Regions from separate parts of the Homo sapiens genome. Here region 2 is linked to region 1. The links come from fine-mapping of genetic effects on gene expression. A gene starts in region 1. The other region holds a variant in brackets. All regions are shown on one strand. Distances are from middle to middle.

Region 1 (8,330 bases):
CATCTCTCTGCCATGAAGGAAACTAGCTCCGCAGACGTTTTACTAACCACAGCAGACCCCCTCCTTGAGGAACCCAGAAGGGCAGAGGTAAGTTGGGTAACGTGTTCTTAAGTCTTCCATTTACCTGACCCTGGGGTTCATATGGGGATAAGCTCCAGCTGCTGACACCTTCTGATCAAGAGAAGGCAGAATGTCACCACTATCACCTGCACTTTGTTTGGATTTGCCTCTATACCCACTGCATTTCTCTGATGTTTTTTTCTACCATTCTGTTTGGACAGAGCATCAGATGAAATCAACTGCTGAGAGAGGGAAGTGAGTGCTGTGTTGGCACCGCTGCCAGAAACTCTTGAGAATGAGCATCGTGTGCCACTTATCCACTGCTTGCCGACTTCAGTAGCAAGAGCCTCCAGAATGCTCATGGATAAACATCATCTTTGTGGCCACACATTGTTTTATGAGCTGAGTCATCAGACTGGCTGGCTCCTTAAATGCTGCTGTGTGATTCTCTAGGCAGCAGAAAACAAGGAGAGAAGATATGAAGTGTATCTCATCGAGCTTTGTAGAGGGCCAGTATCATTCACCAAAGGTGATGGGGGATTTACCATTATGGAGTTTGCTTGTGATAAAAAATTATTGATCAACTTAAACTCTAAGAGAAAAAGATGATGCTGTCTGCATTTCTTGTAAATTATTTATAAAATTTGTTTGGGTATCGGCTATTTTTAACAGCCACCAGTCTTAACGAATTTCCTGCAGAAAACTTGATTCCTTCCTTGCTCATCGAGTTGCAATTTATCATCTAAGGTAATGAGTTAAACCCAAAAGTAACAGTGACATGATAAGTGAAACTGTTTGCATACTTTGTTTTTTAAATTGCTCTATCATGTTTATCTTTTTTATAGCTACTCAATAAGACATTGCAATGAATTTTTAATTAAAACCAATATGTCTATAACAAAGAAATTTAATTAATTAGAGTTTCTGAGTTTGCCGATTTGTGACTTGCTGAGGTAAACATCTCAGTTCTCTCTTCCAACCTATTTCATTATGGTCTCAGAAAACGTACAGGGAGATTATTCACCCAAGAGTGTATGTTAAATTCATGTTAGGTGGTAGGCACTATGTTAGTCTCTGTGTAAGGTAAAAATAATTGAAGAACAATCCTTGTCACTGAAGAAAAAAACAGATGTTTGCCAATGTGAGAAGCAGACCCATTTGATCTCTTGGAGAAGGGTGGAATGAGTAAGTGCTACAGAAAAGGTCATAATGGGTGCAAAAAATCCAGCTGAACTGAGGGCAGTTGGGGAAGCCTTCTTCAGGAAAGTGGCCCTGAGACAGCTCTTGAAGCATGATGCAGATGTGTGGGTTTCAAGAGTAGAGGACACAAGCTGAGGGACACTCTATGCAAAAACCCAGCCAGAACAAGGCAATGGTCTGAAGTTGGGATGGCCCTGGGGAATTCTGGGAAAGTAGTTTCCAGGAGGTGACAGGGTCAGAACGCAGACCTTCAGGTGGTGAGAATCAAATGAATTACATTGAAATAAAAGGATTTGGAATGGATGATTCTCCTCTGTAGTCAGATGGAGAGAGGAGGAAGAGAGAGGGAATGGGGGGATGAGGGTACCAACAGGGCAGGTCTTCCTGGGACCGCAGGAGTCTGTGGAGCAGGTCAGGGTGAAAATGGGAGACAGGGCAATGATAGTTGGGGATCCTGAGAAGTAGCAGGCAGTGAGCCTGGTGGTGGCGAGAACACAAAGAAGAGCAGTTGGAGAGGAGGGGAGGTTACTGTGCTGAGGGTCTCGATTTTCAGAGGCAAGCTGGAAGGCAGCTCATATGCTGAGAGAGTGTGTGTGTGGTGTGTTGAGTGGACTGGGAGCCTGAGGAAGGAAAGGATCAGAGCAGATGCTAGGGGGATAAGAGAGCAGGTGCATGGTCCTGCTGAAGGCCAATGTGTGCTATGCCCTTTTGCTTCAACTCACAAAAACAATCTAAATTTATACAAACAGCAAGAGTGTAGGAGTCCAGGCTTACTAAGTCCCTTCCTTCTCACTTTGGTCCCTTCTTTTCCCTTCCCTGGTTGGGTTTAATGCCCTTCCACCCTGGAGCTGAGGTGTGCAATCATGGAGAATTTTCTTCATCTGGGAAAGCCATAATCTAAGATGGATTCAGACTGGGAACAAGAGTATAAACTTTGGAAAAACTGGCCCTTAGGCTCTGTGACTGTCATCACATACAGCAGACAAGGGAGTGAACTTAGAGGATGAAATAAGAGCTTTAAGGTTGTTCCCTGAAGGCCTGCGTAGCTCAGCCCCACTTGTTGAATAGCTACCTGGAGAGTTTTGTAAGAATGTGGCTTCATTCCATAGAATACTTCCATGGTGGCCACCGGGGAGGGGTCTATCTTCTTGGAACAGTTAGCTCTTTCGTTATGTTCTTGGACACCCCTGCTACCCCTAAAAAGAAGTGTACCTGGCTATTGAGAAATTCTATCATTCACAGAACAGACATTTTTCTGGGCGGGAGTGGGCAGCTATGATTAGTGAGAGGAGGAGCCTAAAGGTCCGAAGGTGGGAAGGGGTGGCCATAACCCAGGGGAGCACAGTCAGGCCTGGGAGGAGTTACCAATCATGACACTTTGAACGAAGAATCAACAAGATCTGTTGATTGCAAGATATTCTTCTATTAGTCTGGCTTCCCATGCAACAACTATACAACAGGTGCTGGGTTGGTGGTGAGGGTTTAGAAAGTTGATTTTAGCCTGGAGCTTGCCTTCTGGGAGCTGACAGTCTTATAAGGGAAATAAGACAAACCGAACATAGCTCCAATTCCAGACAAAGAAGGAAAGGAGACTATGGGTCAGGGCAGGCTTCCTGGAGGTGAGGGGCTGAGCTGGGCTTTGAAGAGTGGTGGTGTCTGAGAGTGCTAGTGAAGGATGACACCAGGGTTTTGACTTAGTAGTGCTAGTGACAGAGATGGGCAAATCTGCTGGGATTAGAGCATGTGGTCCAAATGTAGGTGGAAAGGAGAAGTCCTGCAGTTCCTGTTCTTTGGTAAGTGGTTGACTTGGGGGTCACAAGGTGACATTTACAGGCATCAGAATGAATGGATTCTTAGGGAGGAGAGAGAGGAGGAAAGTTTCCGGTAGGAGCCAGTTCTTAGGGCTCCAAGGGAGGCAGACACCCAGGAGCAGCAGATGCCGTGTCCTGGGTAGGAACACGAAGGGCCCAATGAAGCTCTTCCTTACTAGCAAGGCGGCTGTTGATTGTTCTGGCCCCAAACATTCACCACTCAGGCCATCTCAGAGAAGCAAGAACCCAGGAGGTGTCAGCGGCCTCAGCCCACAGGGGATCCAGGAGAGAGGGGCACGAGTGCACCCCACCTGGTTCCCTCGTGGCGACTCCATCCTGCGGGCCCTGGGAATGCACAGGGTGGCTCCGGGGACCTTTCCGACAGCACTGTGGGTGACACTGGGATGGGTCTGAAAATGGTGTCGTGTCCTCCTTTTCTGGATCTCCCCTCTCCGACCAGGAGGCCTGTGGCCATCTCGGGGCGCAGGCAGGAGGCACTGGAAGCGGAAGCGAGTGGGGAGTCCGGGTAGAGGGAGTCGCCCACCTGACCGGCTTCGCCCCCTCCGGGGTTTGCTGCAGCTGAGGGCCCCGGACCAGCGATTCTAGAAGCCGGTCCGGGGCCGGGCAGTCCAATAGCTTCTCGCGGATTTCCCTCCGCTGGCGCGCAGCAGCGGCGCGTGGATTCGCGCGCGGGCTCGGGACGGCGCGAGCCCGGGCAGCGCGAGCCCCTGCGCGGCAGGGAGTGGCGCATGCGCGGGCGTCCTGCGAGCCCGCTGGGGCGAGCCGAGCCGCGGCGGCGCCGGGAGCCGGGCGGCGGAGCTGTGAAGAAGCAAGCGGCGGCACGGGAGCAGCGGCGACGGACAGGTGGCGAGCCTTCGCCCGCGCCGCCAGGGGCTGCTGGGCCACCCGCGGAGCCTCGCGGTCCAGACGTGGCGGGGGTGGCGGCGGCATCCCGGACGGCCTGTGAGGGATGCGCCGCCCACTGCCCCGCGCCGCCTGACCGTCCCCGCCTCGACTCGCGGTGCGCCACAGCCGGGCCCGCGGCCGTCCCCGCCGCGTTGTCGCCCGGTCGCCGCGCCCGCGGGGCCGCGCCCGGCACGGCCATGTGGACCCCCACGGAGGAGGAGAAATACGGCGTAGGTAGGTGAGGCTCAGGCCTGGCCGTGGCGGGGGTTCTGGGGGACGCGCCCAGCTCCCGGCCCCGCCTGGATTCGCATCCTCGTGCCCCCGCCACTGCCCGCAGGCTGCGCGGCCTCGGCGCGGGGCGAGCGCGGGGTGGGGGCAGGTGCGGGTGCGGGTGCGGGTGCGGGGGTGGGCGCGGGTCTCTGTGCAGAGAGGGCGGCAGGGGGCGCTGGCGGTGCGGCCTTGGCAGGTGCGGCCCGCGGGAGGGGTGGGCAAGGCCCGGGCAGTTGCCCGAGGTTTCTGGTGTGGGCCACGGGGCAATTTTACCCGATAAACCAAATTCTGGGAATATGTTTTCTCCCCTCCAAAAGCTCGATTTTAATGAGTTTCCGCACCTGAATTGATGAGCCCGATGGCTGTTTATTTTTGATCTGGAACCTTACAAGAAAACGGATGAAAAACGTTGACATCATTTTCCCAGTTCAAAAATTTGGACATTTGACTGCAAATGTTTGATCTGTTTTAATTTGTTTTGCCTTTAGTATTAGAAATAATACCTTACGATGGGAAATGTTTTTGGACATGTATCAATGTTTATACGGTTTTTTTTTTAAACCCTGTTTTCAGATGAGACCTTATTCCTCTTAGAAACCTTTTTTTAATGTTGTAAGTGTTAAACTCCAGAAGCTAAATAATTCTTACAATATTCAACTTCTTTAAAAAGAATATTCAGTAATTTAAAGTATTGAATGTTTTACAATGTTAGTGTTTTGTGGCAATTACATGATAGAGTTAAGCCTCATTGCATCACCTATCATCTTGTTCAGTTAGAAACAGATTTAAAATGTTGAGTGTACAGGTTTTGTTTTTCCTAAGCTCGTAATGGAAAATTTTAGATAGGAAACCTGTCTAAACATAGATTTTTGTTTCCCATCTTTACCGCAATTTAATCAAGATTTAGTTCACAATTCACTACAAAATAACTTGAAACTGCAGTGGTAACGAATGTTTTGGAATGCTATCAGGCAGGTTATCGTGTGAAAATTGAATTTATTTAAATTCGAGGACCAGCAGAGAGGTCTTCTATTCTGGTAGAAGATCTTGTTTTAAAAGGTAACTTTCTGAAACAATTAGGTATGTTAGGATGGAGGTGATAAAGGGAGCTCTGGTCCTAGAGTCTCTATTGAGAAGGAATTGAGAAATGATGCGAAGAGCTGGGATTCACCTCTAGGGACATTTTACCCCTTCTCTTAGAGTATTCCCTGAATACTGAGTTGATTCTGTGAAGTGAGGAGTTGGTGGTTTATCTTCTCCATAACTCGCTCCCAGAACTGCTGAACTAGAATAACAAATAATTGATGTGAGTGGTCAACTCTCCAGTGGCACCCCATGATTGATTTTTTTGGAGGGGGGAGGAGCCCTATTTTGGCGGGGGTGGGGGCGTGGGGGGAGGAGCCCTTGAATAGTGGACAAAGTGGAATTCAGAGTCCTAGCTTCTCTTTACTGGTGGTGTGGGCAAGTAATTTAACATCATTTAACGTCATTTTATTAATGTATAAATTGGGGATAATGTTTACCTATCTTACAGGATTGTGAAAGTGAAATGAGAACGTGCTGAATGCTTAATAGTTTCTTCTTTTCCCTTAGTATTTAGACTAATAACACTAAGTGTGTTCTGAGACAGAGCCAGTGCAAGGTAATCAAGATAGGTACATGTGAATCTCAAAGCACTAGGATTTGGTGTGTGATTTTCCCAGCAAGATGCAACGAAATTCTTGCATTCCTAGGATTGTGTTTTTAGCTTTAGAAAAATTGTTATTCCCTTTGGAGGGCCACAGCATTGGGCTCAGGGCAGAGCTTAATGCTTGCTAAATGAGAGAGACAGTTACACTGAAGACATTTTCATAGCAGCTGTGGTTTAGCATAACTTAGATGCCTTTTCTACCAAACCAAGCAACTCTCTATTTATCTCACAGTCTTCCACTGTCCCTTCCTTAGTTATGATCTAAAAGTTTTTGTGTAAATTGTTTAAAACTCAGGACACATTTTTTTTCATAAGGATGTTAGGGCTACACTTCTAGAACTTTTCATAAAATCCACTTTATAAAGTAGCTTATACATTATACTTATGAGAAAAATAGTCAATTAAAACGGCATTTTTGCTGCATCATTTGATTGCTATGAGGGCTAGCTTGAAAATATAACCATTATCATTTTCCTGTGAGAAAATGTTTGAGTTTCAGCTTTGATTTTTATGACTAACTTGGAGCACAGATTTGTGTCTTTGTTTGTCAACCTATAATCACATAGCAAGGAGGGAAACCCCTTACACTTACTTCCTACCAATTTGGAGAAATTTGTGGAGGAGGGCCTCGAGGGCCTCCTTTTGCCCTGATGTTAGTGAGGGAAGGAGTCCCCTGTTGCAGCAGTACAAAGGGTTTTTTCCACTGCAGCTGTTCATTTGTATTTGACATTGATAAGGCTTTGAGATCCTGTAGTAATACTTATTAAATTTTTTATAATATAGGAATTCTGTACAGGTTATAACATGACTGAATTGTTTGGTTTATTCATTTAGGATGAGGTGATGACTGAGCCCCCCTTTCCATTGTAATATTCTGTGAGTGATTTTAGGCAGTGGGGAGGACATTATCCTTTCTGAGGGTCAGTGATAGGCCTGTCAGTGTGCCTGGGACTCTCACTTAGGTAACCCCATGTCGATTCCCAGAGTAGTCTTAATGTTATCATTATTACACAGATAAAGAAACTGGATCCCAAAGGTTGTTAATTTTTTTTTTTTTGTCCTTCAACGATTGTATATTTTTCTTAATTTTCTTCTTGGCAGTGGGCAGTATTTTGTGAAATACTTGACTGTCTTGCTTTCTTTTTGTGGTACTGTAAGGTACTGTTCTTTACTGTACCCGTTCGCCCGTGTTTTGACTTCTTATGTCCCTTTCCCTCTTAGAGAATCTCTGCTTTCCTTTCTGTTGCCATGAATGCTTGGAAAGTCCTGCATCCTTCCATTCTTTATTCTACCTTTCCAAGAAGCTTCCTGCTCTAAAGTGTATTAGGTGAGAAAAATCCAGCTATTTTTGTGAAACACCTGTCTTTCCCTATACTGACTGTACCCAGAGTACCAAATATAGAATACAAAAACCAAGAAAATGCTTTTCTCACCCTCTAACAGGAGCAACAGCAGGAGCAGCAAGCACCAACAGTTTTTAAAACAAAAATGTTTGTAATTACACTCCTTGAATAGAAAAGTGGTAAAGGTTTGAGTACATAGGTATTAGTTTGACGTCTTAGAAGTGGAAGCTGCTTCAGAAGGTCATCTTGTTTATTCTGCTGCTGTCATTAGGCAATTTTTTTTTTTTGAGAGGTGGGGTCCTGCTCTTGTCATCCAGGCTGGAGTGCAGCGGCATGATCATAGCTTACTGCAGCCTTGAACTCCTGGGCTCAAGCGATCCCCCTGCAGCAGTCTCCCAAGTAGCTGGGACTACAGGTGTTTACTACCTTGCCTGCCTAATTTTTTTTTTTCTTTTTTTGAGACGGAGTCTTGCTCTGTCGTCCAGGCTGGAGTGCAGTGGCGTGATCTCGGCTCACTGCAAGCTCTGCCTCCCAGGTTCATGCCATTCTCCTGCCTCAGCCTCCCGAGTAGCTGGGACTACAGGTGCCCGCCACCATGCCCGGCTAATTTTGTTTTTGTATTTTTAGTAGAGATGAGGTTTCACCATGTTAGCCAGGAGGGCCTCAATCTCCTGACCTTGTGATCCGCTCGCCTCGGCCTCCCGAAGTGCTGGGATTACAGGCATGAACCACTGCGCCCAGCCTTGCCTGGCTAATTTTTAAATTTTAATTAAAAAAAATTTTTTTTAGTGACATGGTCTTGCTATGTTGCCCAGGCTTGTCTCAAACTGCTGGCTTCAAGCTATCCTCCCACCTCAGCCTCCCAAGTCACTGGGATTATACCTGTGAGCCACTGTGCCCAGCTAAGGCAAATTTTTGAGTAATTTAGGGCATTTATTGCTTATTTTTTATTAATCCCTCTTAGTAGAACATGAAAAATTTTTCTCATTACCAATCTGAAGACCTTACATTTTAGTTTTGTAATGTTATATTTATTTTTTCCTATTTAAA
Region 2 (8,330 bases), 100 kb before region 1:
CTGGGAGTCCTTGGGCCTGCACTGAACTCTGGCTGACTTTGTGACCTTGAAGAAACTGCTTTTCCCTTCCTGAACCTTGGCTTTCTACTCAGACGGGTCCTCTGGTGTGAGGGTTCTAGACGAAGATGGGGAATCTTCGTCTACAGAAGTTGAGAGTGGGGTGGATTTATTATTGGGCACCCCGACCCAGGCAAGTCTACATATACCCTCACAATAGCTTCCATCCACGGCATGATCAGCTCAGGGAAGGAGCCCTCAGATACTCCTGATCCGCCGGTTTTCAAAGTAGTTTATGGGAGTCACCGGGTAGCCTGGTACAAATGCAAACGCCCCTGTGTCTCCCGGTCTGGGAAGGAGGCAGGGAAACAGCATGTTTAATAGCAGTTTAAGGCCGGGCGTGGTGGCTCACTCCTGTAATCCCAGCACTTTGAGAGGCCGAGGCGATGGATCACCTGAAGTCAGGAGTTCGAGACCAGCCTGACCAACATGGTGAAACCCTGTCTCTATTAAAAATACAGAATTAGCCGGTCGTGTTGGCTCACGCCTGTAATCCCAGCTACTTGGGAGGCTGAGGCAGGAGAATGGCTTGAACCCGGAGGCCGAGGTTGCAGTGAGCAGAGATCGCGCCATTGTACTTCAGCCTGCGCAACAAGAGCAAAACTCCGTCTCAAAAAAAAAAAAAAAAAAAAAGAAAAAAAGAAAAAAAAAGTAGTTAACAGTGTTCTAGTTAACAGTACTTTCTGGTGGGGAGATGTTGACAAGACACACTTTGCGAGACGCTGCCGAGTATTTTATAGAAGGCGCAACTGAGGTCCAGAGGTCCCAACACCTGGAGGAGTTGCCAATAGAGTCAAGATTCGAATCGGTAAAAGAGCGGCCCCTGGGGTCTGGCCGCCAGTCGGCCGACCCCCTGGTGGGCTCGGGCCACTGACCTCGGTAGGGTCACGACACTGGGACTGGACCCCAAAGTTGGACCAGCCTTCAACACTGGAACCCGCCCATGCACAGCTCCACCCGGCCCCCAGGCTAAGATAGACCACGCCCCCGGACATCTGGTCCCCGCCGGAACACCCGGGCCCTCTGGTGACACGCCCCCTTTCCGGCAGGCTACTGGGCTCCGCCCACACACCTCCCGGCCTGGTTCCTAAACGCCAGCTCGGAGCAATCCCCTTGGGCTGGAGCCAAATCCCTGCTGTGATTTTAAGGAAGACCGGCAGGTCCGGGCCCCCAAGGGTCAACCCCACACACATCCCCGCACTTTCCTGTATGCAGGCCTGCGAGCGTAGAGGGAGTGGAATTCACAGCCTCCCCACCCATCCGCAGGGGTCTCCTGGGAGGAACCCACCAGCGATAGGAACACTGAAGCTGGGCTACGGCGTCCGCCCGAGCCTTTTCTTAAAGGCGCCGACCCCGGAAGCGGGGCGTCCGAGGGAGCGCGCGACGGGCCACGCACGTCCGGGCGTCCAGTTCGGGGCAGCTTCTCCGGCTGGTGGGTGGGTGGGGCAGCCTTTCAGGCAGGTATGCATGGGAGGTGGGGATCGGAACGGGGTGTTTCGACTGCAACCGCCTGGAGACCTGGCCGGTACCATTCTCCATAGTGCAGATGGGGAAACAGGGTTGGAGAGAGGGGGCCTCATCTGGGTCGTTAACAATGCGGTGCGTAGCTGTGAGGGAGTTTACACTTCTGACTTCGGGCCTTGGCTCCTGGGACGGCGCACTGGTGCAAGAGCCGCTTCTGGAGTCTGGTGGACTCGGGTTCGTGTCTTGCCTGGGACAGTCTTTTTTTTCTTTTTTTTGAGACGGAGTCTCTCTCTGGCACCCAGGCTGGAGTGCAGTGGCATGACCGCGGCTCGCTGCAACTTCCGCCTGCTTGAACTGGGTTCAAGCAGTTCTCCTGCCTCAGCCTCCCAAGTAGCTGGGACTACAGGTGCGCGTCAGTATGCCCGGCCAATTTTTTGTATTTTTAGTAGAGACAGGGTTTCACCATGCTGGCCAGGCTGGTCTCGAACTCCTGACCTCGTGATCCGCCCACCTCGGCCTCCCAGAGTGCTGGGATTACAGGCGTGAGCCACCGTGCCCAGCTTGCCTGGGACAGTTTCTACCTGAGTGACGCTGGGCAAGTCGCTTCCCTTCTCTGACCCTACTTGTATCTGAAGATGTGGCACTTAGCAGGTGCTTAATAAACGCTAGTTTGGACTTTTATCTGGAAGCAAAGGGGACCGCTGATTTTAAACCTTCAGTTAAACTTGCTTGTGACCTCTTTAAATATACAATTGTAAATTTTTTAGTTGGTGGTTTACGCTGATGTCCCGGATTATAGGTTAAATTAGGAGGAAATTTTCAGCATGTACATCCATGACAGTACACACACAATGTCAGATTCAAAGCTCCCAATTAAAGGCAATCATCTGCCTCTTGTAACATCAGTTAAGATCATGTAACATCTGGTCCCTGCTGTGTGTTGAGCTGCCTCCCAGGCCTTGGATATTCATAGACTAATGCATTGCTTGCCATGGGTTTGGTGTGATTTTCCCCCATCTTATGGATTAAGAAAGTGAAAATCAGAAATAATGACTTGCTCAAGATCACACACGCTAGGTTAGACACAGATCTGTCCTGTCCCCACATATGTGCCCTAACCTACCACCAACCCGTTTATTAGCAGAGACTGAGCTATGGGCTCAGCCCACTCCAGCTAAAAATGTGAAGAAAACGTAAGTGGCCAAGACAAGAATGATCAAATAGGTGGGTAAGGCTCTAAATGGAGTCAAGGGGGTGTCAGAGCAAGAGCACAACTATTCTCAGGCAATGTATTGGTAGAAGGGGGGGTGTCATACAAGGCTCACCTGCTTTCCTGGTTCCTCTCACTCCCAGGGTGGCAACCAACTATATCTGAGGACCAGAGCCATTTTGGGGCACCAGAGCTTGTGACCTCTCCATCTCCACCCAGCTGGGTCCAGGGGCCACTCTCAGCACTCACCTCAGCAGCTGACATCATAAAGCAGACTTGGGAACCTGGAAGCACTCTGGAGAACCTTTCCCTGAGACATGGAGCTTTGGGGCCGAATGCTGTGGGCCCTCCTGTCTGGCCCAGGGAGGAGGGGAAGTACCCGGGGCTGGGCCTTCAGCTCATGGCAACCCCAACCACCTCTGGCTGGGTTATCCAGTGCCATAGAACTGGTCAGCCACTGGACTGGGGTCTTTGAGAAGAGGGGTATCCCTGAGGCCCGGGAATCCAGTGAGTACATCGTGGCTCATGTCCTTGGAGCCAAAACAGTTAAGTTTAGTGTTGTCAAGAGGACAGGAAGAGGGAGGAGGGAGGACTTGGGGAAGGGATATCCAGGTTTTCTGTTCACTAAGAGTGCTTAGCTGAGACTGATGGGATTTTTCTGAAGGAACGTCTTAGCGCCTGGCACACACTGTAACAGTTTGTTGGATGAATGAATATATCTCTGCCTAAGTGTTCTGGGATAGACACCTGGAAGCCTGGTGTTAGCTGTGTAACCTTAGGCAGGATGCTGCCCCCTCTGGGCCCAGATGATGAGAGGGTTGGGCCTCCAGACCAGTGCTGGGCAGGCATTATCCACATAAGACACCTGGGTTGGGGGCCTTGGGCCCAGTGAGCCAGCCACTTATATTCTCTGTGGGGACAGTTTCAGAGCCTGAGGCCGGCACTTTGGACCCAGCCCTTGACCTCTCAGCAACTACAGTGTATCCGGGAGCTGAGTAGCCGTCGATTGCAGAGGTGAGCACCCATGGATCAGACCTGAAGGATGTGTTCAGGGAGCAGCAGTCCAGCCTCCCCTATCCCCACCAAGTTCAGGGAGGAGGAGAATGTCCAAGGACTAGGGAGGTGTTGGGGTGCAGGAGTGGCAAGAGTGGGGCCGGGGTACTGAATAGGAAGAAGGGAGGGAGGGAGGGTTTTGCCTCAGGAGTCCCAAGGCCCTGGAGACATGGTCTTGCCTGATACCTTTGGCCACAAGTGGTATCTCAACCCAGGCATGGTCCTGTTGGTCCTAGCTCTGTCCCTGATGACCACCCAGCTGCCCCCTCTGCAGGATGCCGGTGCAGTACATCCTTGGAGAGTGGGACTTCCAGGGGCTCAGCCTAAGGATGGTGCCCCCAGTGTTTATTCC[T/G]CGGCCAGAAACAGAGGTAGGTGTGCCACCAGGGCAAGGCAGGATCAGGATGATGGTGGAGTTCAGGGCACCAGTCTTACCCCAGGCTTCCTCCAGGGGGCACTGGGGCCCCATGACTTCAGGGACAGTGCCTTTCTAGACATGTATTTCCTCTCTGACTGTGTTGGCAGAGCCCAGAGGACAGAGGATTCCTGTTGGTCCCCTTGACTGTTATGTTCCAAGCTATCAACCCAGCCTCTAGGTCTGGCAATGGCCCAGAGTGCCTCAAATAGTGCTGCCCAAGTACTTAGCCTGTTCTGCCATTTCTCTGGGAGCCATCCCATGGCTCACCCAACCCACAGGGAACAAATGTCTTCCAGCAGCTTCTCAGGAGGCATGGAGGAAGTGGAGAGGGCTCCAGCCGGACACCTGGAGACCTGGTATCAGCTGTGCAACCTTGGGCAGGTCACTGCCCTCCTGCCATCTCTGGGCCCAGATGATGAGAGGGTTAGCCCTCCAGCCCAGAGAATCTGGTGGCCCTCTTAGGTCTACTGACTGGTCTGGTAATCACCTGTGTTGTCCCTCAAATTACTAGGACTAGGGATGTGTGGCGCAAGTGTGTTATCCCTTGGTAAGGCACCCTGGTCCTGGAAGAGACGCTTTATATGGCCCTTCTTGGACTCCCCTCTGACCTTGTAGATGACAGAGCTGGGAGCCAGAGGGCGCAGACCAGGGAGTAGAGCTGGGTGAGAGCTGGTGGGCAAGCCAGAGGGCGCCAGGTTCTGAGAAGGAGTGTTTCTAGAAAGACCTAGGCACACAAACATTTCTGGGAAAGGTTAGTTCCCATTCCCCTGCTGTGGCCAGGGGGCCCCAAACCCTTCTTTCACTTTCTCAGCTTCTGTCCCCTAGCCAAGAAACTCTCTGACCCCTCTCCTCTCCATATCATGTGGTTGGGAGGCCAGGTCCTTGCTTCACTGCCCAGTGTCAGGGCAGGGACAGTAGGGAATCTGAGGCCTTGCTGAAGTCACAGGGCTGTCAAGGAAGGGAGCATGGGGGCAGCACGTGGACTTCCTGACTCCCAGCTCAGAGCCCCATCCCTCACATGGGGCTGCCCCATCTGGGATTGGCATGACCTAGGACACAGTATGGAGACCCAGAGCAGGGTGTGGCCTGCCACCTGCAGACTTTGGGAGGCTTACCTGTGGCTCCTGAAAACACGTGATCTCTGGCGAAGAGATCATTTGCTGTCTCCGGCTTCCCAGGGTCAGGGCATGGTGACTTTTGAGTTCCTTCAGAGCTGACCTGGCACCAGCCATATGTGCCAGGGTTCTGAGTATCAAGTGTGGACTTTGGCTCCCATGTGGCCCCCTGATTCTTGGATGGGTCTGGGCCAAGAGAGCAGCTCTACTGCAAGGGGTGGGGTGAGGGGAGATGCTGCGATTGGGAGGCCAGGTGCTCATCTTGCTGTGCAGACATTTCTGAGAACTCACCAGGTTCACCCCAATGTAAAGCCACATCGGGGGATGCCTTACCAAGAACTCAAGAGGACGTGGCCTGTGGCAGGGAGTAGTGAGAATGGGTGCAGGGGATGGTTTCTGATGAAAGGGGAGTCTGAAGTGCAAACTTGCAGGAGGCATGTGCCCAGTGAGTTGCATTTTCCCTAAGGGTGAGAAGGTGGTTCAGCCCCTGGCCTGGCAGTGAATACAGTAGGAAACTCAGGGCTGGGGGTGTGAACCATTCTCACCCAGCCTGCTGTGAGGCTGTACAGGTTGTGGGAGGCTCAGTGTTTTGTCTGTGATTGGCTTGAAGGAGGCAATGCCACCTCCCTGGGTCTGCCCCACCAGGGATGCCATCCTAATAGAGGGTACTCATGGGCACTTAGGTTCTGCCCAGGCCTTGGGCCAGCCTCTTGATGGGGTATGGAGTCCATGTTGGGGCAGCAGTTCTAGGCAGAGCCAACAACTGCCTGCCCCTCACCTCTTTCCCGCATGCGTCTGTGCCCCACCCTGTTCTTGGATTCTTACCATATTCACCTGGAGGGGGTGCCCTGAGCCTGTGACCAGCATGGCTTTTAGTCTTGCCGAAAGAGCCACCAGCGTTAGGCTGAGGGAGGCTCTTCACTAGGAGGAGAAGAGAAAGTTTCTGGACTCCTTGGGCTGTTATCTACCCCTGCCCCAGGTGGCTCTACAACCAAGATGAGTTTCCGGTGCTCTGGAGTGTTATGGCAAACAAGAGGCCACTAGTGGTGGCAGGGGCTCAGTTTCTTAGCTTCTTACCCTCCCCAAGGTGGCCATCCACATACGTGGTGTGTGTCTTTGAGGTCTTTGAGTATCTCTGTGAGGTGGCTGGCCAGTGTGGCTGGCTGAGGGGTCATTCTCCAGCCAGAGTAGGTCTGTCTATGACCAGGAAACCAAGAGAGGCTTACACACCTGACAACAACTGGTCACCCTACCAACCTCTCAGCTTGTGGCCTCACCACTGAGACCACAGGCTCTCAGCCACAGCCCTATACTGCTCACTCTGTACCTGGCCCAACCTTGCAGGCTAAGCTTGCCACAAGTACCTTAGTGGTCTCCAGTAGTGCCTGGCACAGGGCTGGTGAGAGCTAGTGAATACACACTCTCTCCTGCTGGAACTGGGCCCCCTCACCCACAGGCAATCATTTGTTAGGTGCAGAAGAGGCTTGGAACATGGAGGGTTGGACCTGCTGGCCAAGTTCTGCCTGCTTTGGACTTGCCACCCTCAGGGTGGGTGAACATTGTTGCTGGGTTTGGGGGCCTGGAAGGGTGAGATGCTTTTTGGAACCCAGCACTGGGGAACTTATGTGGAAAATGGGTGTGAGTGATCTGGAGCCCTCTGCTCCATTGGGCCTGGCTGATGGCATTGGGGTGTGGGGGAGACCTGGGGGTGTGAGACTCAGAGGGTGGTGCCACAGAGAGCTTGCCCATCACTTAGAAAGTAGCCAAGAGGGCCAGGCGCTGTGGCTTACACCTGTAATCCCAGCACTTTGGGAGGCTGAGGCGGGTAGATCACCTGAGGTCGGGAGTTCGAGACCAGCCTGACCAACGTGGAGAAACCCTGTCTCTACTAAAAATACAAAATTAGCCAGGCACAATGGTGCATGCCTGTAATCCCAGCTACTTGGGAAGGCTGAGACAGGCGAATCGCTTGAACTTGGGAGGCGGAGGTTGCGGTGAGCCAAGATCGCGCCATTGTACTCCAGCCTGGGCAACAGAGCGAAACTCTGTCTCAAAAAAAAAAAGAAAAGAAAAGAAAAAAAGAAAGTAGCCAAGAGGTTTGTCTGTGGGCCAAGCCCTGCCAGTGTGGGACACACTGCGATGAGTCAGACCTCAGGTCTTCCTATTATGGCGTCTGGTGGGAGAGGCACACCCCATCCTTAGGCTAGACCTTAGGCTCAGGGTGGAGAAAGCCGTGGTAGAGCCTGGCCCAGGCTTGAGGAAGGCTTTCTGGAATAGGTAGTCCTCTTTTCAGATCAGGGAAGCACCCACTTGCTGCCCACCATCCCCAGCTCCCTGAGCCAGTCTTTCCTGAGACCTGGGGTCCCAGGAGTCCTGACCCTCTGGGGGGCTTCTCTGCCCACATCCAAAGGGATGCCTTTGAGAAGGAGCTACACTGCCCTTTCCTTGTCTCATGCCTGGCTACTCAGGTGTCCCACTCCACTGCTGGTTAGAAAAATTTTGGCCATTGGACGGCAGGAGCCTTCCACCCTTTACCCCTACCCTATGTTGGTTTACAGGCATAGTCCTTGCAGGCAGTGGCTGGGTAGGCAAGGCTTGAAACCCTCTTGTTTCCAAAGTGACAGTGTCTGAAAATGTCCTCCTGCTGCCAGGGCAGGTACAGTGCAGTCAGGCACCTCCCTCTGCACCCATGCCTGTTGACCTATGCCTGTGTATGCCACAGCCCTCAGGTCCTTAGTCAGGACCATGTCCCCCCATGGCCCATCTCCTCCAAAAGAGGGAATTCCCTGTCCCTTTGGCCTAGGAGCCTCCCTGGGGGCCTCTCAAGCCCAGCTCTGTGAGGAGGCTGGGGACACACCAGCTCCTGATTCTTGGCCACCATGAAACCACAGGCCAGGCTCAGGTGGGGCCTTGACCCCAGGCCTCAGTTTCCTCATGGGACACTTGTGAGGATTTAACAGATTAATACAGGAAAAACTCTGGGAGCAGGGTCAGGCCAGAGGGAGTGGACAGGAAC

What was found.
Region 2: its variant is fine-mapped to the expression of DOCK3 in whole blood (TOPMed, PIP above 0.99).

The regions. Positions count from the first base shown.
Region 1 is chr3:50,671,090-50,679,419 of GRCh38, forward strand. It overlaps DOCK3 (dedicator of cytokinesis 3), which reads left to right and starts at 3,838. Exons shown (of 53, transcript NM_004947.5): 1 at 3,838-4,211. The coding sequence starts at 4,175. LINC02019 (long intergenic non-protein coding RNA 2019) reads left to right here. Exons shown (of 2, transcript NR_183733.1): 1 at 1-87; 2 at 282-962. It overlaps MIR4787 (microRNA 4787), which reads left to right and starts at 3,991; the gene lies at 3,991-4,074. RefSeq lists a silencer at 3,802-4,091.
Region 2 is chr3:50,568,057-50,576,386 of GRCh38, forward strand. HEMK1 (HemK methyltransferase 1, mitochondrial release factors N(5)-glutamine) reads left to right here and starts at 1,466. Exons shown (of 11, transcript NM_016173.5): 1 at 1,466-1,518; 2 at 2,875-3,276; 3 at 3,654-3,745; 4 at 4,059-4,152. The coding sequence starts at 3,049. It also overlaps a transcript of C3orf18 not described here. RefSeq lists an enhancer at 1,271-1,390. The variant T/G (reference allele first, on the strand shown) is at 4,137.